Homo sapiens: one gene and its partners. The protein of the gene in region 3 purifies or fractionates together with the protein of the main gene of each other region. This does not show direct contact. Each region holds a gene or a part of one and is shown on either strand. Other genes may lie near its edges. The genes, in order: DNAJC16, POMT1, SLC6A16, CLPTM1, PRRC2B, CALD1 and TTYH3.

What was found.
Region 1: the proteins of SLC6A16 (region 3) and DNAJC16 purify together in Homo sapiens (affinity purification with mass spectrometry; one large-scale study listed by BioGRID and IntAct). This does not show direct contact.
Region 2: the proteins of SLC6A16 (region 3) and POMT1 purify together in Homo sapiens (affinity purification with mass spectrometry; one large-scale study listed by BioGRID and IntAct). This does not show direct contact.
Region 4: the proteins of SLC6A16 (region 3) and CLPTM1 purify together in Homo sapiens (affinity purification with mass spectrometry; one large-scale study listed by BioGRID and IntAct). This does not show direct contact.
Region 5: the proteins of SLC6A16 (region 3) and PRRC2B purify together in Homo sapiens (affinity purification with mass spectrometry; one large-scale study listed by BioGRID and IntAct). This does not show direct contact.
Region 6: the proteins of SLC6A16 (region 3) and CALD1 purify together in Homo sapiens (affinity purification with mass spectrometry; one large-scale study listed by BioGRID and IntAct). This does not show direct contact.
Region 7: the proteins of SLC6A16 (region 3) and TTYH3 purify together in Homo sapiens (affinity purification with mass spectrometry; one large-scale study listed by BioGRID and IntAct). This does not show direct contact.

What each region holds. Positions count from the first base shown.
Region 1 is NC_000001.11:15,557,315-15,561,784, forward strand, and holds part of DNAJC16 (dnaJ homolog subfamily C member 16 isoform 1 precursor), read left to right. Parts: intron 1-2,211; coding exon 2,212-2,342; intron 2,343-4,470. UniProt on the Homo sapiens protein: Plays an important role in regulating the size of autophagosomes during the formation process.
Region 2 is NC_000009.12:131,505,283-131,509,752, forward strand, and holds part of POMT1 (protein O-mannosyl-transferase 1), read left to right. Parts: intron 1-831; coding exon 832-938; intron 939-1,120; coding exon 1,121-1,171; intron 1,172-2,068; coding exon of another isoform or gene 2,069-2,085; coding exon 2,086-2,232; intron 2,233-3,628; coding exon 3,629-3,740; intron 3,741-4,460; coding exon 4,461-4,470. UniProt on the Homo sapiens protein: Transfers mannosyl residues to the hydroxyl group of serine or threonine residues. Coexpression of both POMT1 and POMT2 is necessary for enzyme activity, expression of either POMT1 or POMT2 alone is insufficient.
Region 3 is NC_000019.10:49,318,244-49,322,713, reverse strand, and holds part of SLC6A16 (orphan sodium- and chloride-dependent neurotransmitter transporter NTT5), read left to right. Parts: intron 1-4,470.
Region 4 is NC_000019.10:44,982,370-44,986,839, forward strand, and holds part of CLPTM1 (putative lipid scramblase CLPTM1), read left to right. Parts: intron 1-2,848; coding exon 2,849-2,934; intron 2,935-4,085; coding exon 4,086-4,206; intron 4,207-4,470. UniProt on the Homo sapiens protein: Involved in GABAergic but not glutamatergic transmission. Binds and traps GABAA receptors in the endoplasmic reticulum (ER).
Region 5 is NC_000009.12:131,494,116-131,497,889, forward strand, and holds part of PRRC2B (protein PRRC2B), read left to right. Parts: intron 1-289; coding exon 290-371; intron 372-1,624; coding exon 1,625-1,759; 3' UTR 1,760-3,774.
Region 6 is NC_000007.14:134,946,428-134,950,897, forward strand, and holds part of CALD1 (caldesmon), read left to right. Parts: intron 1-1,080; coding exon 1,081-1,342; intron 1,343-3,946; coding exon 3,947-4,087; intron 4,088-4,470. UniProt on the Homo sapiens protein: Actin- and myosin-binding protein implicated in the regulation of actomyosin interactions in smooth muscle and nonmuscle cells (could act as a bridge between myosin and actin filaments).
Region 7 is NC_000007.14:2,645,108-2,649,577, forward strand, and holds part of TTYH3 (protein tweety homolog 3), read left to right. Parts: intron 1-1,745; coding exon 1,746-1,915; intron 1,916-2,034; coding exon 2,035-2,146; intron 2,147-2,310; coding exon 2,311-2,531; intron 2,532-2,851; coding exon 2,852-2,947; intron 2,948-4,459; coding exon 4,460-4,470. UniProt on the Homo sapiens protein: Calcium-independent, swelling-dependent volume-regulated anion channel (VRAC-swell) which plays a pivotal role in the process of regulatory volume decrease (RVD) in the brain through the efflux of anions like chloride and organic osmolytes like glutamate.

The DNA of each region.
Region 1 (4,470 bases), on a different chromosome or scaffold from region 3:
GTTTTCTGTTTTAACTTCTGCATTGTAGGTAGTGATTCCTTCTTGTCATCTTTGAGAATGATTATTTTATGCCTTCTCTTTTGTTTTCATGGTTGGTTTTACCAGAGGCTTGTCGATTGTATTAGCTTTTTCAAAGAACCAGTTTTGTCTTTGTTAATTCTTCTTCTTATATTAATATATTCATTTCTTGTTTCATTAATTTCTATTTTTATCTGTATTATTTCCTTTCTACTTTTATATTTTTGCTGTTTTTGACTTGACAGATGTTTATTTCATTAACTTCTTTTCTATTATGTTAATTGTAAAATTCCCCTTCAAGTACTACTTTATATGTATCTCAGAGTTCTTATAAATAGTATTTTTCATCAGTCATTAAAGTTCAAAATATTTTCTAATATCTGATAGGCGTTCTTGTTTTGGTTTTTTTTTTTTCTTTTTTAGTCAGTCTTGCTCTGTCACCCAGGCTGGAGTGTAGTGATGTCATCATGGCTCACTGCAGCCTTGGCCTCCTATGCTCAAGTGATCCTCACCCTTCAACCTCCCAAGTAGCTGGGACTACAGGCACATGCCACCATGCCCAGCTAACAACTTTTTTTTTCCTTTTTTTTCTTTTATGAGACAGGGTTTCACTCCCGTTGCCCAGGCTGGTATGCTCTCCCAGCCTCAAGCAGTCCTCCTGCCTCAGCCTCCTGAGTAGCTGGGACTAAGGCCACGCCTGGCTAATTTTTGTACTTTTAGTAGAGACAGGGTTTCACTATGTTGCACAGGCTGGTCTTGAACTCCTGACCTCAAGTGATCCACCTGCCTTGACTTCCCAAAGTGCTGGGATTACAGGCATGAGCCACCATACCCAGCCCTTTTTTTTTTTTTTTTTTTTTTTTCTTGAGACAGGGTCTCAGTCTGTCACACAGGCTAGAGTCCAGTGGTGTGATCCTAGCTCACTGCAGTCTCTTAAGTCTTGGGCTCAAGCAGTCCTCCCACCTCCACCTCCCAGGTAGCTGGGATTGCAGGCATGCACCACCATCATGCCTGGCTAATGTTTTTTTATTTTTAGTAGAGACAAGATCTCATTATGTTGCCCAGGCTGGTCTCGATCTTCTAAGCTCAAGCAATCCTCCTGCTTCGGCCTCCCAAAGTTCGGGGATTATAGGAGTGAGCCACTGTGCCTGGCCTTTTGTTTGTTTGTTTTTAATTTTTTGTAGAGATGGGATCTCTCCATGTTGCACAGGCTGGTCTCTAACTCTTGGGTTCAAGGGATCCTCTTGCCTTGGCCTCCCAAAGCATTTGGGTTAGAGGAATGAGCCTCCATACCTGGCCGTGTTTCTTAATTTCCAAACATAAAGGGAAATGTTTACATTTCTGGTTTGCATTTTAAATGGAATTCTAGGTTAATTACCTTGTGGTCAGAATACCTGCTGTCAATGATTTCAATCCTTTGAAATGTGTGAAAGTTAGCAATAAAATGGTCACACGGTTTTGTAACCTGCCTTTTATACTTTGCAACATTGTTGCTTTGGGATTTATTTTTAATTGCCCAGTTCGCTACAAATCCTGAATGGAAATAATTTTGCCTAAAATTCAAAATGATTGACTTTTCGTTTTGGGTTTTTGTTTTGTTTTGTGTTTGGTTTTGTTTTGTTTTTGAGATGGAGTCTCGCTCTGTCGCCCAGGCTAAAGTGCAGTGGCGTGATCTCGGCTCACTGCAACCTCCGTCTCCCAGGTTCAACTGATTCTCTTGCCTCAGCCTTCCAAGTAGCTGGGACTACAGACACACGTCACCATGCCTGGCTAATTTCTGTATTTTTAGCAGAGACGGGGTTTCACTATGTTGGCCAGGCTGGTCTCAAACTCCTGACCTCGTGATCTACCCACCTCAGCCTCCCAAAGTTCTAGGATTTCAGATGTGAGCCACCACGTCCGGCCATGACTGACTTTTTTAATTTGTCAGCATAAAACAGTGAATAAAAATTCTCCAGTGGAAAGTGTACTTGATTTTCCCTTTGACCCGAAATAGCTGCATCATTGCTTTCAGCCCTGCATTGCTGAAATAGATCACCACATGTTTATTCGCTCAAACAGGTCTGTCTTGTTTGGTTATATTACTTTAGCCAAGGTCAGCTACGTTTTTATTAAGCTGGTAAGTAAAGAAAGCCCATCTATTTGCATTGAGAACACTGCATAAAATCTAGCTGATTCTTGGTTTTTCTCTAGGCCCGAGGTATGAAGAAGCAAATCATTGACGACTTCATCACCCGAAACAAATATCTATTGGCAGCCAGGCTCACCAGCCAGAAGTTGTTCCATGAACTCTGCCCTGTGAAACGGTCGCATCGACAGAGGAAGTAAGGACTTAAGGCTTTGCCTCTGCTTGTTATTACAATAGAAGGATCATGATTCATTTTACTATAGGGTGACTAGACATCTGCCCTGTAACATTGAGAACTTATTCTTCATTTAACAAATACTGGGCCGGGCATGGTGGCTCATGCCTGTAATCCCAGCACTTTGGGAGGCCGAGGAGGGCGGATCATCTGAGGTCCGGAGTTCAAGACCAGCCTGACCAACATGGAGAAACCCCATCTCTACTAAAAATACAAAATTAGCCGGGCATGGTGGCTTATGCCTGTAATCCCAGCTACTAGGGAGGCTGAGGCAGGAGAATCACTTGAACCTGGGAGGCAGAGGTTGCGGTGAGCCGAGATCATGCCATTGCACTCCAGCCTGGGCAACAAGAGTGAAACTCTGTCTCAAAAAAAAAAAAAAAAAAAACACTGATTAGTGACTGTGATGGTAATCATACTAATATGATGTATTAGTCCAGGGCACTTTAGCACCAAATTGTCAGATGTGCCAGCCTGTCCTAGTGGTCAGAGAAGATTTCCCTAAGATGTAACATTTCAGCTGAGACCTGAAGGATGAGCACAGTTTAGCCAGGCGTCTGGGATAGACTGGGTCACTTTACAGAAGCACAGAATATGGAAGAGTGACTGTCCCTACTAAAGCATTCCACACAGGGTGAGTCTTTGGAGGTCTTGGGAAGGAGCAAGGATAACAATTAAACAGTAGGGAAGTACAGAGTATTGAGGAAATGGATTGGTGGGAATCGGGAAGGCTAAGTTACATGTATTCAATAAAGTAGGAAGAGTTATTATACAAAGTATCTAAAAAGTCTAGAAATTCAGGGAATGTATTCATTACACCTTCTCAGGTGAATGAATCAGTAGCTTTAAATTTAGGGCTGTTTCATCTGTAAAAGGTATCTGGATATGGAAGGAAAACATATCAATCATGTAACTTGAAAATATAAAACATAATTTCCCTGTGTGTCTAGGCTTTTCAGATTCCTTTATAGTCTTAAGAGCGAAGAAAAAAATGACTTAAATATAAAAAAAGAATATCCTGGACTGTAAGGATTGTTGTTTACACAGCCTTCAAAAAATATCCCAAATCCACACACTTCTCACTTTTTTTAACCACTGCCACCCTGGAACAAGCCACCATCGTCTCCCAGCGAGACCCCCCTGGCAGCCTTCTAACTAGTCTCTCTGCTCCATTCCACTCTTGTACCCTCCAGGCAGATGTCCACACGTCAGCCAATAATGTTTGAAAATGCAAATCAGATCCAGTCACTCCCCATCCTGGGGTCTTTGCACTTGTAGTCTCTCTACCTGGGATGCTCTGACCCCATTTCCTGTCATAACAATGTCACCTTTTCAGTTGGCACTTCCCTGACCAACCTGTCTGATGGAGCCTGGCTTCTACCCACTCTGGCCTCTCTCTGTCCCCTTTTCATCTTTTTTTTTTTTTTTAATATATAGCACTTGTTGATACCTGTCATAATATATCTGTTTTCTGTCTTCCCCACTGGAATATAAGCTCCATGAGGGCAATAATATTGTCTATATTACCTGACATATACTAAGTGCTCAGTAAATATTTTTGGGAGAATGAATAGCTAAACTTTCCATTGGAACCTTGCAAAGGAAGCCGTTCAGAATGAGGCTCAGTGGCCTCTGGCCTGAGAGAGATTTGACCAGCCCTCCCTATACTGGAAGAACTAGGACAAATAGTTTCTAAAAGGCCCTGCCGGCCAGGAACAGTGGCTCACGCCTATAATCCCAGCACTTTGGGGGGCTGAGGCAGGCGGATCACTTGAGGTCAGGAGTTTGAGACCAGCCTGGCCAACATAGTGAAAACCCGTCTCTACTAAAAATACAAAAACTAGTTGGGTGAGGTGGTGCACGCCTATAATCCCAGCTACTTGGGAGGCTGAGGCAGGAGAATGGTTTGAACTCAGGAGGCGGAGTTACAGTGAGCCGAGATCACACCACTACACTCTCCAGCCTGGGCGACAGAGCAAGACTCCATCTCAAAAAATAAAATGAAAGGCCCTGCTGCATCAGAGATTCAGTGACCAACCCCTTAAATTCCTGGCAGGCACGATGGCTCATGCCAGTAATCCCAACACTT
Region 2 (4,470 bases), on a different chromosome or scaffold from region 3:
TGTAAAAGATGAGGATTTTTTTTTTTTTTTTGGAGACATAGTTTTACTCTGTCGCCCAGGCTGTAGTGCAATGGTGCGATCGTGATTCTCCTACTTCAGCCTCCCGAGTACCTGGGATTACAGGCACCTGCCACCACGCCTGGCTCATTTTTGTATTTTTAGTAGAGAAGGGGTTTCACCATGTTGGCCAAGCTGATCTTGAACTCCTGACCTTGTGATCCACCTACCTTGGCCTCCCAAAGTGCTGGGATTACAGGCGTGAGCCACCGTGCCTGGCTGAGGATTCTTAAAAACAAAAATCACATAACCACAGTTGCATTATCATGCCTGAGAAATTGACAGCAGTTTCTTGGTTATCTTCACCTCTCCCTGATTGAAAACATGTTATTGCAGTTGATTCCCACGTTTTCCTTTCATACTTGCAGCCGTTTCATTGGGTCATCGCTAGCCACAGACATGTGCTGCTGGTGGGGGCGGGGGTGGGGGGGTTGGGTAGGTGGGTAAGCAGGATTAGCCTTGCGTCCCAGGAGGTCTTTCAGCAGGTTGGCTCATAGTATCCACCTAAATCAAACACAAGGGAGAGACAGAATCTGTATGGGCAGGCATGCTGAGTGCCAGCTGTGCTTGGTGAATTCCCCATGTCTCTGTGGGTGGGTGATGCTGTATGCATCTTAATATTTGGGGATGGGAAACAATTGGGGCAAAAGATCCAGCCTTTGCTGATCACTCACTCAAAGTCATTTGGAAACACATACACATTTATCCTCACAGTTTTTGTTTACAGTTAAGATTCTAATTGAATATAATATGGGTTGTTGTTTTTTTTTCTAGTTTTGACGAAGTATATTATGGGCAGTACATCTCTTTTTACATGAAACAAATCTTCTTCTTGGATGACAGTGGGCCGCCATTTGGCCACATGGTGCTGGCCTTGGGAGGTAGGAGTCATCAGGAGAGTAGCCCCTACCCTTCAGGACCTCAAATACATTTAAAACTTATCAGTGCATTTCTTACAGGCAGAAACCAGGTCTTATTATTGATGCATCTTGTTTATTGCTTGCCACAGTACTCTAGAAATATTTGCTGAATGGGATAGTTACTGATTAATCTTCTGTTTCAGGTTATTTAGGAGGATTCGATGGCAATTTTTTGTGGAACAGAATTGGAGCAGGTAAAAGATAATTTTCATTTCCCTTTTAATGTGCGCAGGTTAGAATGAAGAGATTGTGACTTTTGTAAGGATTAACAACTGTGGCTTTTTTTTTCCTTTCATACCTAGTCCCACAGAAACTGTGCCTTATTAATCTGAGTCCAGAAAATAATAAATTGGTTGGATACAAATGAAAGACTTCTGGAAAGTCTGGTTAAAATCTTACTGTTCAGTTGCAGTCATTATTTCAGCCCTTGTCGTTGGTACACGTATCACAGAGCGTCTGATTGTGATGATCGGTTGTACATGTGAATTTTGTCCATTGCCACAATGTTTTTGAAAATAGGGAGGGTAGGCCGGGCGCGCTGGCTCACGCCTGTAATCCTGGCACTTTGGGAGGCTGAGACGGGTGGATCATGAGGTCAGGAGATCGAGACCATTATGGCTAACATGGTGAAACCCCGTCTCTACTAAAAATACAAAAATTAGCCGGGCGTGGTGGCGGGCGCCTGTAGTCCCAGCAACTCGGGAGGCTGAGGCAGGAGAAGGGCGTGAACCCGGGAGGCGGAGCTTGCAGTGAGATGAGATGGCGCCACTGCACTCCGGCCTGGGGGACAGAGCAAGACTCCGTCTCAGAGAAAAAAAAAAAAAGAAAAAAGAAAACAGGGAGGGTAAATATGTATAAGTAAGGCGGTAAATTTTAGAATCCTTAGTCCTGTCTATGCTTCATGAGATCGGGTTCCATGACTATGCAAAGCTAATTTCAAAGCCTTCACCCATAGTTTATGCACTCTGCTGCTGATGGGGTCCCCAGTTTTGTAAACGTGCATTTTAGAGTCTGTGAACATGACGGCGCTATGTGAAAGCATAGCTGCAGTACACAGAGATGGTGTGTGCACAGTGTAGTCAGCTCTGCAGTGTGGTTGCTTTTCCAGAATACAGTAGCAACGTGCCTGTGTGGTCCCTGCGCCTGCTGCCAGCACTCGCGGGGGCCTTGTCGGTCCCCATGGCCTACCAGATAGTGTTGGAGCTCCACTTTTCTCATTGTGCCGCCATGGGAGCTGCTCTGTTGATGCTTATCGGTAAGACCTGCGCCCCTGCCTGCTCTTGCTGTCATGCAGGGAAGAACTGACCCTTTGGCCCGGAAGATCACATGGGCTTGGTGGGCGAGCTGCACCAGAAAGTGCATCTGGTTCATCCAAATTTGACGCTGCAAGTCACCCGCTCCCAGGCTGACCCCGTGGTTATGGGATTGCTGAATTGTGGGATCAGACTCTTATCAGCAGTCGGGGTATGGCAGTAGAAAACTGCCCAGATGCTGCTGCAAAGTCCATGCACACGTGGGCACCTCCATCTCCAACCAATCTTGTGACCAAATGATAACTTCCCCTTGTTCCACCACCTCCCAGGCCTTGGCCAATTGAGATGGACTCGTGAGTCAGTGGATCCTCTTCAGAGAGGGTCTTCCAGCTCACGTTTATGAACAGATGAAATTAAAGCAGATGAAAAGTTAGATTAGGCTGGGCGCAGTGGCTCACACCTATAATCCCAGCACTTTGGAAGGCTGAGGCGGGCAGATCACGAGGTCAGGAGTTTGAGACCAGCCTGGCCAACATGGTGAAACCCTGTCTAAAAATAACGAAAAATACAAAAAATTAGCTGGGTGTGGTGGCAGGTGCCTGTAATCCCAGCTACTTGGGAGGCTGAGGCAGGAGAATTGCTTGAACCTGGGAGGTGGAGGTGGCAGTGAGCCAAGACTGCGCCACTGCACTCCAGCCTGGGCAACAGAGCAAGACTCCATCTCAAAAAAAATAAATAAGCCGGGCACGGTGGCTCACACCTGTAATCCCAGCACTTTGGGAGGCTGAGGCGGGTGGATCACAAGGTCAAGAGATCGAGACCATCCGGGCCAACATGGTGAAACCCCATCTCTACTAAAAATACAAAAATTAGCTGGGCATGGTGGCACCCACCTTTTGTCCCAGCTACTCAGGAGGCTGAGGCAGGAGAATCGCTTGAACCCGGGAGGCGGAGGTTGCAGTGAGCCGAGATTGTACCACTGCACTCCAGCCTGGTGACAGAACAAGACTCTGTCTCAAAAAAATAAATAAATAAAATTAGCCAGGTGTGGTGGCATGCGCCTATAGTCCCAGCTACTCAGGAGCCTGAGGCAGGAGGATCCCTTGAGCCCTGGTGGTCAAAGCTGCAGTGAGCCATGATGGTGCCACTGCACTCCAGCCTGGGCGACAGAGCAAGACCCTGACTCAAAGAAAAGAAAGAGACAGTAGAAAATCAAAAGAGATGTGTATTGGGTGATGACTGTATGAGGCCTTGTGTCTATAGAATGTTTTAACATTCACAACAGCCCCACACAGTTGTATCGCTTCTGAAGTAATGCCTTTTTTCATGAGTGTTTTTCATCCTCATACGTTTTCCCTTGCTACCTTAAAATTGACATGTGTTTCCTCTTTGAAACAGAGAATGCTCTCATCACTCAGTCAAGGCTAATGCTTTTGGAATCAGTGTTAATATTTTTCAATCTATTGGCCGTGTTGTCCTACCTGAAGTTCTTCAACTGCCAAAAGCACAGGTATGGAAAATGGAGTGTCTTCCTAGTTAACGAGAACAGAGATTCTGGGTGGTTTGTTGATCTGAGATGGTCCAGTACCTTTTTTTGTTTCGTTTTGTGAGACAGTACCTTTTCATTTTGAGGAGTTGCTTGCTAAATATCTTTTTTTTTGAGACGGAGTCCCTGTCACCCAGGCTGGAGTGTAATGGCGCAATCTCGGCTCACTGCAACCTCCGCTTCCCAGGTTCAAGCAATTCTCCAGCCTCAGTCTCCCGAGTAGCTGAGATTACAGGCACACAGCACCATGTCTGGCTAATTTTAGTATTTTTAGTGGAGACGGGGTTTCACCATATTGGCCAGGCTGGTCTCAAACTCCTGACCTCAGGTGATCTACCCGTCTTGGCCTCCCAAAGTGTGGGGATTACAGGTGTGAGCCTCTGCGCCTAGTGCTAGATATCTTTTGGTCCTCTAATATTTTGGGGGTTGGCCCTTGGCTTGTGACTTCATAAATACATCTTCATTTTTCTATAATTTAAACTAACAGGACAACATTTTCTGGGCAAAAAGAAAAATTCTGCTGGGATGGATACTTTGGGAGATGGGAATTCTTTCTTACTGCCCCTGTGGCTCAGCATGGCCAGCCGACCCAGAAAGATTTCTCTGAAGAATGTGGAGCTTCACTAGCCTTTTGGAAATGTGTCTGAACTATTTCTGTCTCCATCTGCTTTGTTTTTATTCCAGCCCTTTTTCT
Region 3 (4,470 bases):
ATTTTTTTCAGCAATGTTTTGTAGTTTTCTTTGTACATGTCTTTCACCTTCTTGGTTAATTCTTTTTTTTTTTTTTTTTGAGATGGAGTTTCACTCTTGTTGCCCAGGTTGGAGTGCAATGGTGCAATCTCGGCTCACTGCAACCTCTGCCTCCCAGGTTCAAGTGATTCTCCTGCCTCAGCCTCCTGAGTAGCTGGGATTACAGGCATGTGCCACCATGCCTGGGTAACTTGGTAATGGAAACGGGTTTTCTCCATGTTCGTCAGGCTGGTCTCGAACTCCTGACCTCAGGTGATCTGCCCACTTTGGCCTCCCAAAGTGCTGGGATTACAGGCTTGAGCCACCGTGCCCAGCCAAGTTAATTCTTAAGTATTTTATTCTTTCTGATGCTATTACAAATGGAATTGTTTTCATAATTTTCTTTTCAGATTGTTCATTGTTAGTGTATAAAAATGCAACTGAGTTTTGATTGTTGACTTTGTATCCTGCTACTTTGCTGAATTCATTTATTAGCTCAAAAATTTTTTTGGTGAAAATTTTAGGATTTTCTACGTATAAGATCATATAATCTTTCTAGTTTGGTTTCCTTTTATTTATTTATATTTTTGCCTAATTTCTCTGGCTAGGACTTCCAGTACTATGTTGAATAAAAGTGGCAAAATTAGACATTCTACGCTTGTTTCTAATCTTAGAGGAAAAGCTTACAGTCTTTTATCATTAAGTATGACATTTGCTGTGAGTTTTTCGTATATGGCTATTATGTTGGGATATTTTCCTTTTTTTTTTTTTGCTGAGACATGGTGTCACTTTGTGACCCAGGCTGGAGTGTAGTGGTGTCATCATGGCTCACTGTAGCGTTGACCTCCTGGGCTGAAGTGATTCTCCCATCTCAGCCTCATGAGTAGCTAGGACTACAGAAGTACATCAACACACCCAGGTAATTAAAAATTTTGTTTGTTTGTTTGTTTGTTTGTTTTTGAGATGGAGTCTTGCTCTGTCACCCAGGCTGGAGTGCAGTGGTATGATCTTGGCTCACTGCAACCTCTGCCTCCCAGGTTCAAGCGATTCTCCAGCCTTAGCCTCCCAAGTAGCTGGGACTACAGGTGCACACCACCACATCTGACTAATTTTTGTATTTTTAGTAGAGATCAGGTTTCACCATGTTAGCCAGGCTGGTCTTGAACTCCTGACCTCAGGTGATCCACCCGCCTTGGCCTCCCAAAGTGCTGGGATTACAGATGTGAGCCACTGCACCTGGCCCCAGGCTGGTCTTGAACTCCTGGGTTCAAGTGGTCATCAGGCCTCCCAAAGTGTTGGGATTACAGGCATGAGTCACCATGCCCAGCCGTATTTTCCTTTAACTCCTAGATTGTTGAGTTTTTTTTTTTTTTTTTATCATGAAAGGGTATTGAGTTTTGTCAAATGTTTTTTCTGCATCAGTTGAGAGAATCATTATTTTTCTTTCATTTTGTTAATGTGGTATATTATATTGATTGATTTTTGTATGCAGAACCATCCTTGCATTCCAGGAATAAATCCCACTTGGTCATGGTATATAATCCTTTTAATATGCTGCTGAATTAGGTTTGGTAGTATTTTTTTTGAGGATTTTTGCATCAAAGTTCATAATGAATATAGGTCTGTAGTGTTCTTTTCTTATAATGTCTTTGTATGGCTCTGGTATTAGGGCAATGTTGGCCTTATAGGATGAATGAGGAAGTGTTCCCTCCTCTCCAATTTTTTGGAAAAGTTTGAGAAGGATTGATATTAATTCATTAAAGGTTTAGTAGAATTCACCCATGAAGCCATCAGGTCCAGAGCTTTTCTTTGTTGAGAGATTTTTGATTACCAATTCAATCTCCTTACTAGTTATAGATCTATTCAGATTTTCTGTTTGTGATTTAGTCTTAGTAGATTTGTATTTCTAGGAATTTGTCCATTTAATCTAGGTTATCCAGTTTATTGGTGTACAGTTGTTCATAAGTTCATAGTACTCTCTTATAATCCTTCTATTTCTGTAGAATTGGTAATAATGTCCCCATTTTCATTTCTGGTTTTAATCATTTGAGTCTTCTCTTTTTTTCTTAGTACATCTAGTTAAAGGTTTGTCAATTTTGTTGATATTTTTAAAGAAACAACTTTTGGCTTCTCTATTGTTTTTCTATTCTCTATTCATTTCTGCTTTAATTTTTATTATTTTCTTCTGCTAGCTTTGGGTTTAGTTTGCTTTTCTAGTTTCTTAAGTTTTAGAGTTAGGTTATTGATTCAAGATCTGGTTTTTTTTTGTTTGTTTGTTTGTTTGTTTTTAGAGGGAGTCTTGCTCTGTTGCCCAGGCTGGAGTGCAGTGGTGTGATCTCGGCTCACTGCAACCTCCGCCTCCTAGGTTCAAGCGATTCTCCTGCCTCAGCCTCCTGAGTAGCTGGGATTACAGGCGCCCACCACCATGCCTAGCTAATTTTTGTATTTTAATAGAGATGGGGTTTCACTATGTAGGTCAAGCTGGTCTTGAACTCCTGACCTCAAATGATCCACCCACCTCAGCCTCCCAAAGTGCTGGGATTACAGGCGTGAGCCACTGCATCCGGCCTCTTTTTTGTTTTTTAATGTAACCATTGATAGTTATAAATTTCCCCCTTGGCATTGCTTTTGTTGCCTCCCATAAATTTTAGTATGTGTGTTTTCGTTTTCATTTATCTGTAAGTATTTTCTAACTCCCCTTGTAGTTTATTCTTTGATCCATTGGTTGTTTAAGAGTGTGTTGTTTAATTTCTACAAATTTGTAAAATTTTCAATTTTACTTTTGTGATTCATTTCTAACTTCATCCTATTGTGGCTGGAGAAGATATTTTGTATGATATTTATCATTCTAATTCTATTGAGAAAAAAAGGAAATTTGTGGCCTACAAATTTGTGGTCTCTCCTGGAAAATGTCCCATGTGCACTTGAGAAGAATGTGTATTCTGCTGCTGTTGGCTAGAGTGTTCTGAATACATCTGTTAGATCTGGTTGGTTTATTGTGTTAAGTCCTCTATTTCCTTGCTTATCTTCTGTCTGCTGCTTCTGTCCATTGTTCGTAGTGGGGTATTAAAGTCTCCAGTTATTATTGTAGAACTGTCCTTTTATCCTTTCAATTATGTGAGTCTTTTCTTGATATATATATGTATATGTATATATCGTATAGGTATATGTATATACATATACACATATACACATATATGTATAAGTATATGTATATACATATACACATATACACATATGTATATGTATATGTATTTATATGTATATACAAATATATATATATACACACACACATATATGAAGGAATTAGGGAGGAGTAAAGAAGAGTACTTGGTCAACATACAGCAGGTTCATCTCATTGTACAAATGTAAGTTTCTCAAGCTTCAGTTCTATGGGCATCTGGCTTGTTGGAAAATTGGCCTGGTTTCATTTTCCCATCCTCCCTTTATTTTGGACCTCCAGTTACACATTTTAGGCCATTTGATATTGTCTCACAGTCACTAATGCTCTGGTAATTGTTTTCAGTCTTTTTTTTTTCTTTGTGCTTCATTTTGGATTGTTTCTATTGCTATATCTTTAAGTTCACTGATTTATTAAAATCTGCCAGTAATCTTCAGTGAAATTTTCATTTCAGGTGTTGTATCATCTCTAGAAGTTCTATTTGATGTTTAAAATATATCATGGCTAGGCATGGAGGCTCATGCCTGTAATCCCAGCACTTTGGGAGGCCATGGTAGCTGGATCACATGAGATCAGGAGTTCGAGACCAGCCTGGCCAACATGGCAAAACCCTGTCTCTACTAAAAAAAAAAAAAAAAAAAAAAAATAGCCAGTTGTGGTGGTGCACACCTGTAATTCCAGCTACTTGGGAGGCTGAGGAAGGAGAATTGCTTGAAACTTGGAGGCAGAGGCTGCAGTGAGCTGAGATCAGTGTGGGCAACAGAGTGAGACTCTGTCTCAAAAGAGAAAATATCTATCTGTCTGTCTAGCTAGCTAGCTATCTAGCTATCTTATATTCCTCATTCTGTTCATGTTTTCCTTTTAAGTCCTTGACCATATTAAGCATATTTGTAACAGCTATTTTAGTGTTATGGTGTGTTAATTCCATTAGTCTATCATTTCTGTTTTTGTTGTCTGATTATGGGTCACTTTTCCTGCTTTTTTGCATGTCTAGTAATTTTTGACTAGATGGTTGACATTATGAATTTTTTGTTGTTCAGTGCTAGGTTTGTCTGTATTATCTTAAGGAATGTTGGCCTTTGTTGTGACAGGCAGTTAAGTTACTTGAAGATCAGTTTTGGCTGTTTAAGGGTTGCTTTTAAGAATTTTTTTTTTTCAGGTCTAAAGTAGTCCTACTACTAGAACTAGAGCTAGTTTATGCCACTTTAAATGTTCCAAGTATTCAGTAAAGTCTCTCCACACTGGCTGATGGAAACTTGAGTAATTCTTGT
Region 4 (4,470 bases), 4.3 Mb from region 3:
GTGTGTTTTATATCATAGCACTTCTTGGTTTGGACCAGCCATATTTGCAGTGCCCAGTAGCTGCATGTGGCCAGCAACCCTGATACTGGATGGTGCAGCTCTAGAAGATTTTCCTCCAAGAAAGGGGGGCTTTTTCCTCCCCACAGGAGCCAGGTCCATCTGGTCTGGATGCCTCCAAGCTGCAGAATGTGTTCTTTGCCTGAGCCAAAGCCTCTCTCCCCTGTGCCTCCCCCTCCACCAGCCAGCGCTGCCCTCTGGGGCTCTCCCTTCCCTGGACAGTCTCTGTCAGGTGTGGACACGATTGGGGCATGTCCCCCTGGAATTTTCTCCAAGTCAACCCTTGAGTGTTGGTTTCTCCCCCTGGACACAGGAGGAAGATCCCCAATGATTTAATAATCATAGAAATGATGAGGATTGGCCAGGTGGCTCAAGCCTGTAGTCCCAGCAATTTGAGAGGCCGAGGCAGGTGGATCACTTGAGGTTAGAATTTGAGACCAGCCTGGCCAACATGGTTAAACTCCGTCTCTACTAAAAATACAAAAATTGCTGGTCATGGTGGTGGATGCCTGTAATCCCGGCTACTCGGGAGGCTGAGGCAGGAGAATTGCTTGAACCTAGGAGGCAGAGGTTACAGTGAGCTGAAGTCATGCCACTGCTCTCTAGCCTGGGCAACAGAGTGAGACTCCATCTCAAAAAAAAAAAAAAAATGAGGATGACGTTTCTGCTAATAAGCAGTAGGCCCTGGGCCAAGAAGTGGTGAGGCTTTTCTTCCTTCTTTAGGGAAGTGACATCACTCACCAGCATCCCTTAGCTTGTAGGATTCAGAGCCAAGATTGCCCCCAGAGCCCCCGCTGTTGGCCAGGTCTCTTTCCCCTTTCCCTGTCTCTCCCTGGCCCCAGGGGACAGGATAGAGACTTGAGGGAGGGCAGACTGAGTTTTCCTTCATAGCATAAGGAAGAGCTGAAAAGTCCCCGGGCTCAGTGGCTCACGCCTGTCATCCCAGCACTTTGGGAGACTGAGGTGGGCAGATCACGAGGCCAGGAGATTGAGACCAGCCTGGGCAACATGGTGACACCCTGTCTCTACTAAAAATACAAAATTAGCCGGGCGTGGTGGTACACGCCTGTAGTCCCAGCTACCCAGGAGGCTGAGGTGGGAGAATAGCTGGAACCTGGGAGTCGGAGGTTGCAGTGAGCCAAGATCACACCACTGCACTGCAGCTTGGATGACAGAGCGAGACTCTGTCTCAAAAAAAAAAAAAAAAAAAAAAAAAAAAGAAAAGAAAAAAGAAAAATACTTAGCTTCTTTTCGGGCCAGGTGCGGCAGCTCACACCTGTAATCCCAGCACTTTGGGAGGCCAAGGTGGGCAGATCACGAGATCAGGAGATTGAGACAATCCTGGCTAACACAGTGAAACCCTGTCTTTACTAAAAATACAAAAAATTAGCAGAGCCTGGTGGCACACGCCTGTAATCCCAGCTACTTGAGAGGCTGAGGCAGGAGAATTGCTTGAACCCAGGAGGCGGAGGTTGCAGTGAGCCGAGATTGTGCCACTGCACTCCAGCCTGGGTGACAGAGCGAGACTCTGTCTCCAGAAAAAAAACAGAAACGTCCCCAGGCCAGGGCAGAGGTTGGGAGATGGAGCGTGGGCACGCACAAGCCCCTTCCTCCCCGGCAGCATTTGGGACAACATGGCAGGGGGCCTGTGGCCAACTGGGCCTCTGCGAGAGGAAGTGAGGCCAACTCCTGGCTGGGGATTCACAGCCTCAAAGTGTTTCTCATCTTGGTTTCTCATGTTGGTGGCTTCAGGCCTTTTTTGGAACCGTCTGCTGCCTCTTTATAGTCATGTATTCAACTGGTCATCACCGAGCCTGTGCAGGCGCCCCATGTGTATTCAAACAGGCCCTGCCCCTACCCGCATTTCCGCACAGAGTTTGCAGACTGGTTGCAGGGACAGACAGCAGGCAGGTAAACCACTGGCTAAGTGGTTTTGGATAGTGGTGAAATGTTGTGAAGGAAACAAGCTGGCAGGAGAATGACTGCATAGGCTCATTCAGTGGGGTGGCCAGGGAAGCCCTGTGGAAGAAGGACATTCTGCCAGGGACTTGAATGCCACGGAGGAGCCAGGCCACGAAGATTGTGTCAGGGCATGGGTTCCTGGGACACGGGGCAGCACGCCTGAAGGCCCCGGGTTGGCATGTTTGAGAAGTGGAAGGTGGTGAGGGTTGAGAGGTCACCGGGGCTACGGTGAGTGTCTGGGGTTCCAAAGCTGCGGGATGCCATGATCAGTCACTTGTTTTTATTTATTTGTTTGTTTGTTTTCTTTTTCTTTTTGAAACGGAGTTTCGCTCTTGTTGCCCAGGCTGGAGTGCAACAGTGCGATCTCAGCTTCCTGTAACCTCCACCTCCCTAGTTCAAGCGATTCTCCTGCCTCAGCCTTCCGAGTAGCTGGGATTACAGGCACCCGCCACCACATCCGGCTGATTTTTGTATTTTTATTAGAGACGGGGGGTTTCACCATGCTGGCCAGGCTGGTCTCTAACTCCTGACCTCAGGGGATCTGCCCGCCCCAGCCTCCCAAAGTGCTGGGATTACAGTGCCCTACTGAGCTGGGGTTTCTGCCTGGGGCATTTGGTGATGGTGGCGTCCCCATGATCATGAGGAACTGGGATTCGTTGAGATTTGGGGAGGCAGTTCTGGCATTCCAGGTCACATTGATCTCAGCAGGTGAGTGCAAGGTGGATGCCAGGAGACCGTGAGCCGTTGCTGGTGGGCAGGGGTCCGGGCTCTGGAGGCTGCAGGTGCCAGCAGGTCTCACGTCCCCTCCTTTCCCACCTCCCAACCACAGTGATCAACAAATACAAGCGCAGACGATTTCAGAAAACCAAGAACCTGCTGACAGGAGAGACAGAAGCGGACCCAGAAATGATCAAGGTAAATGGGCAGGGTTGTCAGGGCCTATAGGGACCAAGCCAGGCCATTCACAGCTCATCCCAGACCACTGGGGCTGTCATCTGTCACCACCACTGAACCACCATGCCGGCTCGGTCATGCCACCTCCCCTCCCTGAGCACTGGGCTCCTCCTCTGGGAAATGGGGTCAGGAGGCAGCTGTCTCTCAGGGAGTGAGGAGGATCCCAGACAAGGTTACCTGAGCCTCTTGCCAGCCTGGGAGGGGTCTACATCACAGTCCCATTGTCACATGAGGACACTTGCTCAGTCTCAGCCGGAAGTGGCAGGCCAGGGACTCTCACCCACACAGCCAGGCCCCAGAGCCCAAGCTCAGCCTGGCTCCAAGCACACACACGAGAATATGGCTTTAGTAGGAACTGCAGGATTCATAGTTGCTGTCACTCCCAGTGGGCTGGGGAGCCGGGCAGTTAATCTGTGGTTAACCTGCAGTGGGCACTAAGAGACTTCCTCTCTCTGCGGGTGGTCCTGTGTTGGGGGGGTGGTCCCTGCTCATGGAGCTGAGGCCACCGTGCAAGAGTGTGTGGAGCCTGCTGTCATGAGGCTGGGCTTCGCAGCCTGGCCTAGGATGCCAGCCCTGCCTCTACCTCTACCTCGGTTTTCTACATGTGGGGTGGGAGGATCCTGTCGGTGGCCGGAAGGGTCCTGGGTGGCGGAATCTCTAAGCCTAGGGAGGAGAGCCTTCTGCCAGCAGTTGCTGTGGTGGCTGATATTCTGCTGCCAGGGTTGTCAGGGGAGATGGCTCATGCCTGTTTTCCCAGCATTTTGGGAGGCCGAAGCAGAAGGATCACTTGAGCCCGGAAGTTCAAGATCAGCCCAGGCAGCATAGTGAGACCCCATCTCTTCCAAAAAAGAGAAAAAAGAAAGAAAGAAAAGAAGCTGTCCATGGTGGCTCACGCCTCTAATCCCAGCACTTTGGGAGGCCGAGGTGGGAGGATCGTGCTTGAGCCCAGAATTCGAGACCAGCTTGGGCAGCATAGTGAGACCCCATCTCAGAAAAAAAAGAAAGCAAAGATTAAGATTTTCTCGGGAACCCTGGGGAGGAAGTGTACAGAGAGTGATAGTCCCCGAGCACTTCCACCTGCCTCTGAGGTCCTTCCCCCCATGTTGCCTCAGAGGGCTGAGGACTATGGGCCTGTGGAGGTGATCTCCCATTGGCACCCCAACATCACCATCAACATCGTGGACGACCACACGCCGTGGGTGAAGGGCAGTGTGCCCCCTCCCCTGGATCAATGTAAGCTCCCCAGCCCTGCCAGCTGCCTGCAGAGCCTTTGAGAGGGTGCTCGGGGTCCATCTCCTTGTCTTCTCCTGGCCCTGTCCCCCTGAGAGAGCTTTCCAGGGCTCCACCCTCCCAAGCTCCCACCCTGTCCTATCCCCTTCCCATGTCCTCTCCCTCTCCCACACCACCACCCCTGGGGACCCCAGGACTGACTTCTACACGCCAGCATCGGTCCGCAATCAAGTGCCATCCAGCCCACAAACTGTTTTCAAAAAATGT
Region 5 (3,774 bases), on a different chromosome or scaffold from region 3:
CATGCCCATCTGTACAGGGCCTCAGCCTCCCTCTCTTGCGGTGCGTCTCCTTGAGCTCTGTCCTGGAGGTGCCAGGGTGGTCAGTGACAGCCACCCCCTCACCCTTCTGCGTTCTGGGCTGTCTTAGGTCTGTGGTTGTTTTCCATCCAAGAGATCCACGGACCGTCCCGAGTGAGCGCCTCTGGCCGCAGGCCCTTCCTTCCTTGTGCCTCCTCCATGTGCTAGGCTTTGACTCCATTTCTGTGGTGACACGTTGTGTATTCTCAACCCCTGCCTTTGGTTTTTTCAGGCCTAGCTCTGCTAGCCCCAGTGGGAAGCCCTCTGGATCAGCAGTTAACATGGGCTCTGTGCAGGGACACTACGTGCAACAGGTAGAAGATGGCTTTCCAGACCCTTCAGCCCTGGACACTTAGGCCCGTCTCCAAGCGCCAAAAGAGAAGGGACTGTCCAACCTATCTGAGCGCCCCCTGTCTAAAGACAGCCATGCCCTAGCGGTTAGAGCACAGAACCGGGAGCTGGGCCGCCCGCGTCCCTCCTGGCGAAGGCATTTCTCCTCTTGACGGGCGTCTGGATCCTTCCTTGTCCTGCAGAGAAGGGAGGATGCTGATTCCTCTGAGGAGGTGGTGCTGGAAGGTGGACCAGCCCTGGCAGGTCGGGGCTGAGGCGCCCTGGGAGACTCGGTTAGGTTTGGGGGTCGGCTTTAGGAGCCGGGGTGCGCGCGCTGGTTCTAGTCAGTGGTGTGTCTCATCTTTGTCTTGGCTGGGTGGGAGCACAGGTGAAATTAAGTTTTCCCATTTTATAATGAAAAGGACATCGCAGTGTCTTTTCCTGCACGCACTATTCTCTTCTCTATTCTCTAAAACGTGCTGGGGCTCAGAGCTTAAGCCCCTCAGACGTGGGTTTTTAATCAGTCACTGTGCCTGGCTGGTAGAGATGGGAAGTGATTGCTCTCATTGGTTCCCCTAGGGGTCATGAAAGTTGTGTGGAATGAGCTTCTAAAGCTTTCTTCCAGAGTTCAGACCTGGTGGGGGGCAGATGCGCTGGCTGCTCTGTGACTTCCCCACCCCACTCCCCGTGTAGAGCCACAGACCAGGGGAGCCCTGACTAGGAATGGGGCCCCAGGGAAAGGTTACAGAGTGGGAATGGTGGGGGGGTTGGCTGAATCGCGGCCAGAGATCTGTGGGGGCCAAGTCTGCCTAGGGCCCCAGCAGACAGTCGGGGGCTCCGAGACGTGCAGGGGGCACTTGGATCTACTTGAAGGGGCCTTTTTTGCCTGTGGGGCAGGAGGTGCACTGATTTGAAAAGGTTCTTCCAGTTGGCCTTGGGACCAGAACTGCTTCCGCCCTGGGATGTGCCATCGCGGAATTCTTTGTGGAGGACCCGGTGTCTTCCTGCCTCTCCGAATCACTGCACTCAGGGCTTATGGGGAGGGAGCAGAGACGGCACTCGCGCCACTTTCCTTACTAGGAGGGGGGTTTCTAAGTCTGGTCCTTCAACCAAGGGACTGACAACTTAGGGGAGCTTTCCCTGCAACTCAGGAGCAGGAAGGGAGTGGTGGGAACTATGTATCCAAACACGTTTCAGCGTCAGGGTCACTTTGTTTTTCCCATTCATCTGTCCAAAGGCAAAACAACGAGTGGATGAGAAACCCAGCCTGGGAGCCGTGAAGCTGCAGGAGGCCCCCTCGGCTGCCTCCCAGATGAAGCGAACCGGAGCGATCAAGCCTCGGGCTGTCAAAGTGGAGGAGAGTAAGGCCTGACAGTGCCTGGCTGCCACCTCGCCTCTCCCTACTGAGGACGGTGCCGCCATGCGGCCTCGACACAGCCGACACTCGGGAGCCTCACCAGATCCACCGTCCAAATGCGTGGCCCAGACTGAGAGACCTCCCTCCTCTCCACTCCCGAAAGCTCCGTTGTCAACCAGCTTGCACCCGTGGATATATGGCATTGACCCGCTTGCTTTGATACGAAACAAAAAAGCAGACGACTCCTTCATCCCATCTGCTCCTACCGTGACTGTGGAGTGACGCCTCCTGTGCAGTGCAGATTTGCCCTCCCTGCCTCCTCCCTGTCCTGCCGCGCAGCCAGGGCGCCTTCTCAGCAGTGCTTCCGGCCCAGCCGCCCATCCCTAGGCACAGTGATTTGGCAGCAGGGTCATTTTACTTTGAGGCTTTTTGTTTTAAAATGTAGCCAAGGTTTTTACAAAGGGGAAAGGAAAAGAAAACAAAAACGCAAGCTCCATGTGTATAGCTGAACTTTTATATGTTTCTTGCCAGCCCCTCCGCTCCCTTCCATCTCTAGCCTCTGTCCTGTTTAGTTTGATACGTCACTGCAGTACCTTAAGAGGTGACTCTTAAGAATGCATCCCCTCCTGATTCCTCAGCTGGTTCACCCTTGAGGTTATTTGCAAAAAGAAAAGGAGGTTCTTGAGGGCACCGATTGCGAGCATTCTGGTGCCTGGCTCCCCGCCTGGGAAGCGATGGGGTGCTCAGAGCAGCAGGCAGGTTGGGGGAGGGGGGGGGTCATAGTTGGGTTCCAGCTCCTGGCTTGATGAGCCCAGGGCGCTTACAGGCAGCCCATGAAGTTGATGACAGTTTTAGCATGAGAATCACACAGGGTCCCTGTCCTGGGCTCCTCTAAAGCCAGTGGATGTGCTGGGCACCAGAGACAAATCATGGAGATGGCTGCTGGTGGCTCCCAGGTTGGCCCAGATGGGGTGAGCTGACATACCACAGGCCCATCCCAGGCCCCGTGGGCTCTGCTTCTGGGGCTCCATACCCTGCCCTGCAGGGGTGCTGTGTTTTTCACACATTTCTTTCCCTGAAGCCTTCTGTAACCTGTCATTTTCCTTCCTTCCTCTTCCGGAGCCTGCTGCTTTCTCTGGACCTGTCTCCACCTCCCACACAGCTCATCGTGAACACCACTTGGTGATGGAGGGAGTGGACCCGTGTGTGGTCCCCAAGTGAGGCCACTGGGAGTTTGTCCTTTTCCTCCTTTGCTTCACTCCCAGCAGCAGACCCAGGTTGTCAGGACAGGAGGGCCTGAGCTAAGCAGTAGGCATCAGTCTCGTTTGTCTTCAGACGGCGGGGGCAGGTCCAGGGTGAGGCTGGGTGGAGGGCTGACCAAGGTCCAAAGGGCCTGCGCAGCCTCCGGGAGGGCAGCTTCTCCAGCCAGAGGCTTGTGTGAGCCATCGTGTGCTGGGCTTGTTTTTAAGTAAGAAACAAGGAAATCACTCCAGATTCTGTCATTCCAAGGAAAGGGAAGGGGACAGTTCAGGTTTCTCAGCTGTTCTTAGGGGTCACTGAGCGTCTACCTCCTCCTCCAGAGGAGGCTGGCTCAGAACACCTAGAGGAGGGGGCCGGGGATGCACCCCCCACCAGAGGCTGCCTTCAGCGTCTCACGGGTGCAGGACAGCGCTCAGGCTTGGGCTCTAAGCTCTGTGTCTAGTGTAGAACATGGGGAAGGAGCATCTTAGGAACTGCTGAAGTAACTTCTTACTGCTCTCACAATTCTAAGGAAGCGGGAGAACGGCCTCCTACCAACAGCGCCCACCCCAGAGCTGCCTGGGAAAGGGCAGTTTTACTGAAAGGTGCTTTACTGTTCACCTGCATCTTTCAGCAGCTCCCCTCCTGCCCTCACCTGGTCTTTTCCCTCTTTATCCCAAGCCTTTATGCTTGAGTCCCTTCCCCAGGGGCTGCCCACCCGACAGTTCCAGGCATTCCCTACCTGAGCTTCTTGTCTGCTTTTCCTTCTCCCACTGCAAGCGGCTGCTTGT
Region 6 (4,470 bases), on a different chromosome or scaffold from region 3:
TTTCATCTTGCAAGACTGAAAGACTACACCCATTAAACAGCAACTCTTTATTTCCTGCTACCGCCCACCCTCTGCCTCTGGTAACTACAGTTCTATTTCTGTCTCTATGAATTTGACTACTTTAGATCCCTCATATAAGTGGAATCACACAATATTTGTATGATTTCCGTGATTGGCTTATTTCACTTAGCATAGTATCTTCAAGGTTTATCCATGTTGTAACAGGTAACAAGATCTCCTTCCTTTTTTTTTTTTTTCTCTTTTTTTCTTACAGACAGAGTCTCGCTTTGTTGCCCAGGCTGGAGTGCAGTGGCACAATCTCGGCTCACTGCAACCCCTGCCTCCTGGGCTCAAGCAATTCTCCTGCCTCAGCCTCCAGAGTAGCTGGGACCACAGGCACACGCCGCCACGCCCGGCTAATTTTTTTTTTTTTGTATTTTAGTAGAGACAGGGTTTCACTGTGTTGCCCAGGCTGTCTTAAACTCCTGAGCTCAGGCAATCCGCCCGCCTCGGCCTCCCAAAGTGCTAGGATTACAGGCGTGAGCCACTGCACCCGGCCTCTCCTTCCTTTTTAAGGCTGAATAATATTCCATGGTATGGCTAGACCACCTTTTATTTATCCATTCCTGCTATGATGGACACTTGGGTTGCGTCCATCTCTTGGTCCTTGTAAATAATGCTGCTATGAACACGGGTATACAAATGTCTCTTCAAGACCTTGCTTTCCATTCTTTTAGAAGTGTATCAGAAGTGGGATTGCTGGATCACGTGGTAGTTCTCTTGTTGATTTTTTGAGGAACCTCCATACTGTTTCCATAGCAGCTGCACAACTTTACAATCCCATTTTACAGTGCATATTTGTCCCATTTTACAGCTGAGGAAACGAAGCACAAGTGGAAGAGCAGAGGCTCCTGGACTCTGTGATTCCGGGCAGACCCCTTCCCCAGCCTACCCCCTGGGCTAATGAGAGGCAGTGGGTATTTAGTCGGGGATGCAGAAGCCGCAGACCGACCTCCCCTTCCTCCAGGGAGACTACAGGCAAAAGCATGTAAACCCCTTTCCATTGCCCCCCAACCACAGCCGCCCTGGAGGGAGGGCCAGCGTGGACACCAAGGAGGCTGAGGGCGCCCCCCAGGTGGAAGCCGGCAAAAGGCTGGAGGAGCTTCGTCGTCGTCGCGGGGAGACCGAGAGCGAAGAGTTCGAGAAGCTCAAACAGAAGCAGCAGGAGGCGGCTTTGGAGCTGGAGGAACTCAAGAAAAAGAGGGAGGAGAGAAGGAAGGTCCTGGAGGAGGAAGAGCAGAGGAGGAAGCAGGAGGAAGCCGATCGAAAACTCAGAGAGGAGGTAAGGCGGGCGCTAGCCCACTGAGAACGTTGCCCGGGAAAATTCCCTAGTGCCGTGCGGCTGTTCTTTTGAGCATGGGCTCTCAAAAATATTTTTTTAAGAATAATAAACTTACCATGTGCTAGGTACTGTTTTATAACTTGTAGATGTATTAATTTGTCCACTGCTTCTAAGAACTCGCTGACCTAGGTACTAATCCCCATTTTACAGATGAGAAAACTGAGGCACAGAGAGGTTTTGTTTTTGTTTTTGTTTTTGTTTGTAACTTTCCCAAGGTCTCCCTTGAGTCTGCCTGACATGCAGGAGGAGCCCCATCATTAAAACCCTTTACTGCCTCTCAAAAAGGAAAAGTTAGAAAGCTGAAAAGGATGAAAGGTCTGCAAATTAGTTACCAGAATGAAGTTATGGTTTTCTAATAGTTGGAGAGTTTTTATAGAGAAGATTTTTTTAAATCTTTTTTTTTTTTTAATGAGCAAGTAAGTACATTAGAATATAAAGAGGCAGGGACAGTATCTGCGTTGTTCATTACTGTATACCCAGGACCCCATACCGTGCCTGACATGCAGGAAGAGCCCCATCATTATAAACAGATGGATTTGTTTCATCTTTTAAGACAGAGCTAAAAACAGCAGATAGAGTTACAAGGAGGAACATTTTGGCTCAGCATATGAAATAATGTTTAACCAACTACAACTTACAGTACTACAGTTTACAAAGTGCATTCTTTCATTTCATCCTGAGGTACATCGTTCTCATTTTATGGGCAAAGAAACCAGGAATCAAATAGTTTGAGTGACTTATTTGAAGATTCTTGACTAATAAATGGTAGAATCAGTAAGGAGACCCCGCTTTTCCAACTCAGAGCCCAGAGCTTTTGAGATAGCGATCTCCCATCATTCAAAATATGAAGAAAAAAAAAGACTTTCAATGGCATTTTGACAAGGATCCTATGCAAAATTTTCCTGAACTGTATGGAAAATTTGGATACATTATTTTGAGGTCTCTTTTAACTCCAACTTTCAATGAGCCAATGACCTTTGGTTGGGAAGTATGGGAAGTAATCAGGATGATAGAGTTTGGGGGTTAAACACACCCCAGGCTTTTTTTTTTTTATTGTTTTTTTAGACATAGTCTTGCTCTGTCACCCAGGCTGGAGTGCAGGAATGCAGTGGTGCAATCTCGGAACACACCCAGTCTTCTATCCTAACTCTGTCACTAACAAGCTGGGGCCTTGGGAAAACTGGACTACTCTGTGTCTTCTTTTCCTTATCTGTGAAATAATATCTACTTTGCAGGATTCTTCCAATAATTTAATAGATCATTGTGCTCCCAGTGCCTGGCACATTCTAGGCACTCAAAAATTAGTAGGTATCATTATTGCCATCATTGTTATTATGATTATTATTCAGAGGAGGAGAGTATCAGGAAAGGCTGAAGAGAAATCACGAAGTCTTAGAACTGGATTGGACCTAGGAGATTATTTGGGCTAAACTACCAAACACAGGATCCTTCTGTGACATCCTCTGACAGATGAACATCTAGTCTCTGCTTGAGAACATGCAGTGATAATGATCTCACAGCTTAAGAACTACCAAAGACTGCATTAAATCTCTCAGAAAATCAAGTTGTGCAACTTGATCAGAGCCCTGATAGAGAAGACAGAGTATTCTAGACTAGGAATGAAGACACAGAGGGGTTAATGAGACAGTCTGTAAACATTTGCAATTGCACTACCATGGTTCAACGTCTAGAGCATTTCAGGTTTGTCAAACCATCTAAAATTATATATTCACTTGAAGCGGGGAGCAACCATAAAATCACCTCTTGTACCATCTGGCAAATATAGTACCACAGATTTAGATAGCTTTTCACATAAGTTATTCATTTGTCTTCACAACTCTCCTAGGATGTAGGTAGAAGGAATATTCATATCCCTTTTACATATACAGAAGTGTGAGGTCATTGTTAATGACCCACAGGATGGTGGTGATTATGTATCATCCTATGGGAAATCATCATAATGAGTGTTAGTCTAAGCCAGGGGTGTCCAATCTTTTGGCTTCCCTGGGTCACATTGGAAGAAGAATTGCCTTGGGCCACACATAAAATACACTAACACTAATGATCGCTGATGAGCCAAAAAAAAAAAAAATCACAAAAAGGTCTCATAATGTTTTAAGAAAGTTTACGAATTTGTGTTAGGCTACATTCAAAGCCATCCTGGGCATGATGTGGCCCCTGGGCCATGGGTTGGACAAGTTTGGTGTAAGCATTTTACATGTGCTATCTCACTGAGCCCTCACGAAAGCCCTAAAAAATGAGTACTATTGTTATCCCTGTTTTACAGATGAAGAAACTGAGCCACAGAGCAGATAAATAACATGGCCAAGGTCAGGCAGTTGGAAAGTAGCAGCACCAGAATGCAAATGCAGGCAGCTCGACTCCAGCTCTCAGGCTAAACCTCTGGTGACCACCTAGAAGGGGAGTGTCCAGCCTGCGGCCTGAGTCTGCTGCCTCTCCAACTGTGCTCTCTCTCCTACAGCACTCTTCCCTTTGGCTGTGAAGCTGGTACTGATGCCTCGTTATTTGTTCTTTCTCTCTTAGGAAGAGAAGAGGAGGCTAAAGGAAGAGATTGAAAGGCGAAGAGCAGAAGCTGCTGAGAAACGCCAGAAGATGCCAGAAGATGGCTTGTCAGATGACAAGAAACCATTCAAGTGTTTCACTCCTAAAGGTTCATCTCTCAAGGTATTTTTTTCCCCAGAAAACTTCTATTAGAATATGATAGAGACTGGATTTTAGCCCCTTGTTTAGTTATTGATTATACAGGGCCTTTGTTCATTTATCTTTTTGCTATCCTTCCAAGTTAATCTGTTCAGGCTGCTATAACAAAATACTTTAGACTGGGGCCAGGCACGGTGGCTCATGCCTGTAATCCCAGCACTTTGGGAGGCAGATGTGGGCAGATCACCTGAGGTCAGGAGTTCGAGACCAGCCTGGCCACCGTGGTGAAACCCCATCTCTACCAAAAATTCAAAAACTAGCCGGACGTGGTGGCACACACCTGTAATAATCTCAGCTACTTGGGAGGCTTAGGCAGGAGAATCACTTGAACCCAGGAGGCAGAGGTT
Region 7 (4,470 bases), on a different chromosome or scaffold from region 3:
CCAGCTGCTGACACCCCCCAGGGCACCCCCAAGTTAGCCTCTAGGTGGTCCCTGGCCCCATGATGAGGCGCAGCCCTGTATCAGCTCCCCATCCCTCCCCCGGCACAGGAAGTGTGTGGAGGTTCTGGAGGGCTGAGCCGGGGGCAGGGCTATGCTGAATCCAGGGACCTGGGGTTGCAGGGCCTGTGTGCTTTCTCTGTAGCTTCTATGAAGCCCAGTTTCCCTGTGGATGAAATGGGGTGAGAGCACTCGGCCAGGCAGATCGAATGCAGTGCCAGGAGAAGGGACAGCTCTGGGGCCACGTTACCCTCCCTCCCCGCAGCGGGTGCTGAGGAAATGTCACTGTTGCATCAAATTAGCCACTTCCTGTGGGGGTCGCCTGGCCTCGGGACAGGGGAGCTCTGGTGTCTGTTCTGTGGTCTGTCTTTTGTGTTCAGAGACCTGGGGAGAGCCACACTGGAAGGCCGTGCTTGGAGCCAGACAGGGCTGTGTGTCCGATGGGGCGCCTGTATGCAGCCTGTAGCAGTGTGGGGCCAGCCCCACCATCTCATCCAGCGTGGGGGCACGCCATGGACGGTGCCCACCCCTGAGTGCAGCTTCTCGGTGCACAGACCCCAGACAGGATCAGACTCCTGATGGGGCCTCTTCCATGTTCACCCCTCAGAAACACTTTCATGGTCAGCAAGAGGGGGTTCAGTCCCCCACAGGCTCCCAATTTCCCTACCAGACCTGAAAACCTCAGGACTACAGCTGGGGTGGGGGATCCTGCCAGGACTCAGGTAGGAGAGTTCTGGGCCTGAGACGGGGACGGGCTCTGGGGTCCTGGGGCTGTCTCGGGCTGGGGGTGAGGACAGTAGCTGATGCCGGCAGCCCCCTCCCCAGGGCTTCGCTTCTTCGGGGGAGCAGCAGCACTTTTTTTTTTTTTAGACAGTGTCTCGCTCTTGTCGCCCAGGCTGGAGTGCAGTGGTGCAATCTCGGCTCACTGCAACCTCCGCCACCCGGGTTCAAGTGATCCTCCTGCCTCAGCCTCCTGAGTAGCTGGGATTACAGGCACCCGCCACCAGGCCTGGCTAATTTTTGTACTTTTAGTAGAGATGGGGTTTCGCCACGTTGGCCAGGCTGGTCTCAAACTCCTGACCTCAGGTGATCCGCCCGCCTCGGCCTCCCAAAGTGCTGGGATTACAGGCGTGAGCCACCCTGCCCTGCTCAGCAGCACTTCTTTCTACAGAAGATAAACCAGGCTCGGAGAGGTGGAGGGACCTCCCTAGTGGGGCTGTGGCTGCAAAGATGGTGGCTCACCAGCAGCGTCCTCGTTTGTCACCCACATTCTCTGGCTACCTCCATCCAGCGCCTCTCCTTGGGGCCTGGTGGGGCAGACGTCCTGAGCACCTGCCCTGGACTCTGGGGACCCGGTGGGGAGGGGACATGTGCCCTTGCTGGAGCCACAGAAGCCTGGAGTCGGTTCACCCGGCCCCTCCTAGTGGCTATGGAGTCTTCATGCTGTGCAGCCTTGAGGATGGCGAGACCGGGGTCCCAGGTGTGGGGTCCAGGCCTGGGTGACCCCAGGTGCATCACTGAGGTGGTGGGAGACTCCATGCCTCACCTACAAGTCGGGGATGGGGCCCACCTCCCAGGGCTGGGGGCAGGATTAAATGGGAGTCTGCGCCAGGTCCCCTGCTGGGGCGGGGCGTGGGACTCTGAGCTGGGGGTCCACCCCTCCAGCGCCGCTTCCTGCCTGCCCTCAGGCCCTGCTGCTCCTGGGGGCCGCCGCCCTGGCCTGCCTCGCCCTGGACCTCCTCTTCCTGCTCTTCTACTCCTTCTGGCTGTGCTGCCGGCGGCGCAAGAGCGAGGAGCACCTGGACGCCGACTGCTGCTGCACGGCCTGGTGTGTCATCATCGCCACGCTGGTGTGCAGGTGAGCGCGGTGGGGCGGGGACGGAGGGCGGGGCCAGAGGGGGCGGCCCGAGGGGGCGGGGCTGGAGTGGGGTGTGTGTGGGTGGGCGGGGCTACATCTCACGGGCCCGCCCTCTCCAGCGCCGGCATCGCAGTGGGATTCTACGGCAACGGGGAGACCAGTGATGGCATCCATAGGGCCACCTACTCGCTCCGCCACGCCAACCGCACGGTGGCCGGGGTCCAGGACCGCGTGAGTGGCCGCGGAGTTGGGGCCAGGAGCACTCTTGCTGCTCCGGAGCCCCACGTCTGCGCGAGGACGGGCGGGGCAGCCGGGACTGGGGCTGTGCAGGAGGGGCCCAGACTCTGGGGCGAGGCGGGCGCGCTCCCAGCCTCACGCCCGCGGGTCCGGCGCAGGTGTGGGACACGGCGGTGGGGCTGAACCACACGGCGGAGCCCAGCCTGCAGACCCTGGAGCGGCAGCTGGCCGGGCGGCCCGAGCCCCTGCGAGCCGTACAGAGGCTGCAGGGCCTGCTGGAGACGCTGCTGGGCTACACGGCCGCCATCCCCTTTTGGAGGAACACGGCGGTGTCGCTGGAGGTGCTGGCGGAGCAGGTGGATCTCTACGACTGGTACAGGTGCGGCCAGGCCCTCTTCCCTGCCCGCCCCACGTGGGAAAGCATCACCCTCCTTGGGCCAATTTTTGCTCTCAGCACCTAGTACATGAGGCCTGATGGGCAGGGTGTGGCCCAGGGCCACTGGAGGTCACAGGCAGTGGCTGGAGTTCCCCTAATGGGAGCCTTTCTCAAGAACTGACACCAGTCCCCATGACCCAGACGCTCTGAATGCCCTCTGGGGTGCCAGGCTGCTGGCCTCAGCTCCCCCTCAAGGGCCCCTGGCGCCCCACTCCCAGGCCCCGGGTCCCTGTGCCCTGGCGCACTCCCAGGTTTGCCTGCAGGTGGCTGGGCTACCTGGGCCTGCTGCTGCTGGACGTCATCATCTGCCTCCTGGTGCTGGTTGGCCTCATCCGCAGCTCCAAGGGCATCCTGGTGGGGTGAGTCTGGGGGTGTCGGCCCCCCGTGGGCCCAAAGCGGAGGGGCAGGGCAAGGCACCATGTTACCCCTTCCCCCACCTCATCTGCAGATCCTAGCCACAAGCTCTGCGGTGGGGGCTGAGCGGGACCCCCCTGCACTGGGCCTGCTCTGAGATGCCCCTTCTGTGCCTGTGGCCTGTGCCCCTGTGGCCAGCATCCCAGCACACTTGCCCCCAGCCCTTGATTTCCTGCAAGAGTCTGCACGTGGGGCACTTGTAGCCCAGGACCTGAAGCAACCTGCCCAGGTCTCCGAGTGCCTGGGGCCACCCAGAGACCAGGCTGGGGCTCCTTCCTCCACCCCTTCCATCCTTGGCCCTGGGGCAGCCTGGGTTCCAGCCCCAGCTCCGGCTCACTAGGAGGGTGACCTTGGGCAGGTGGCTTATTGTTGCTGGGCCTTGGTCTCCTCGTTTGGAAGGCAGAGAGAGCGGCAGCTCCTCTGTGGGAGGTAAGGTGTTGTCACTGCCCTTCACCACGCAGCTGCACAGCCATGGCTGGTGCCTCCCTGGGCCAGGCCTGGGAGAGATGGGAGAACACACAGCCTCCCCCCACGTGGCACTCACAGGCCACAGAGGAGCAGAATGAGGGAAACGTGGCATGGGCCAGAGGTGATAGCACCCTGGAGAGGAAAAGCCGGGGTGGTGTGAAGGCCTGCAGTAGGGTGGTGGGGGGGGGTGCAGCTTCACGCTGTGCCCAAGGAGACCTGAGCGAGGAGGGATTGAGCAGGGGCCCAAGGGAGTAAGGGACGCCTGGACAGACAGGAAGGATGACAGTGTGCAGTGGGTTGTGGGGTCCTCAGTGGGGTGTGCAGGCCTGCAGTGGGGTGTGGGGCCCGCAGTGGGGTGTGGGGCCCGCAGTGGGGTGTGGGGCCCGCAGTGGGGTGTGGGGCCTGCACTGGGGTGTGTTTTGGGGATCTGAACTGGGATATGGGGGACTCGTGGTGGGGGCACCTGCAGTGGGGTATGCACAGGAGGCCTGTGTATCTGGATCAAAGGGAGCCAGATGTGGGTGAGGTGAGGCCTCAGATGAGGGAGAGGCCAGTGCCGTAGCAAGAGCTCTGAGTCCCCAGTTGCTGAGCGAGGGTTCAGCACAGGAGGGCTTGATCTAGCTGACGTTATCAGGCCCCTTGGGCTGCTACGTGGGCGGCGGGATGCGGGGACCCACGTGAAAGTGGACACTGTTGCCTGTTCAGGAGAGGGACCTGGGGGACAGGAGGGGCGGGGCCCCAAGAGCCACGTGGCCCTCCAGTCCTGCTTCCAGCTCAGATCTCTGAGCCCCACCCCACCTAGGAGAGGGATCCATCTGGGCCCTGGGCTGTGGGCAGCTCTGGCTGAGGCCAGGCCACAGGAAGAGCCCCAGCCCATGTGTGGGCTGACCCCTGATGTGCACTGGGACCTGCCTTCTGGCCTGCAGCCCAGCAGGTGGCACGGCCCCCACCCTGGCCTGGGGGCTGCTGACTGGCTGTCTCTGCCCCAGGGTCTGCCTGC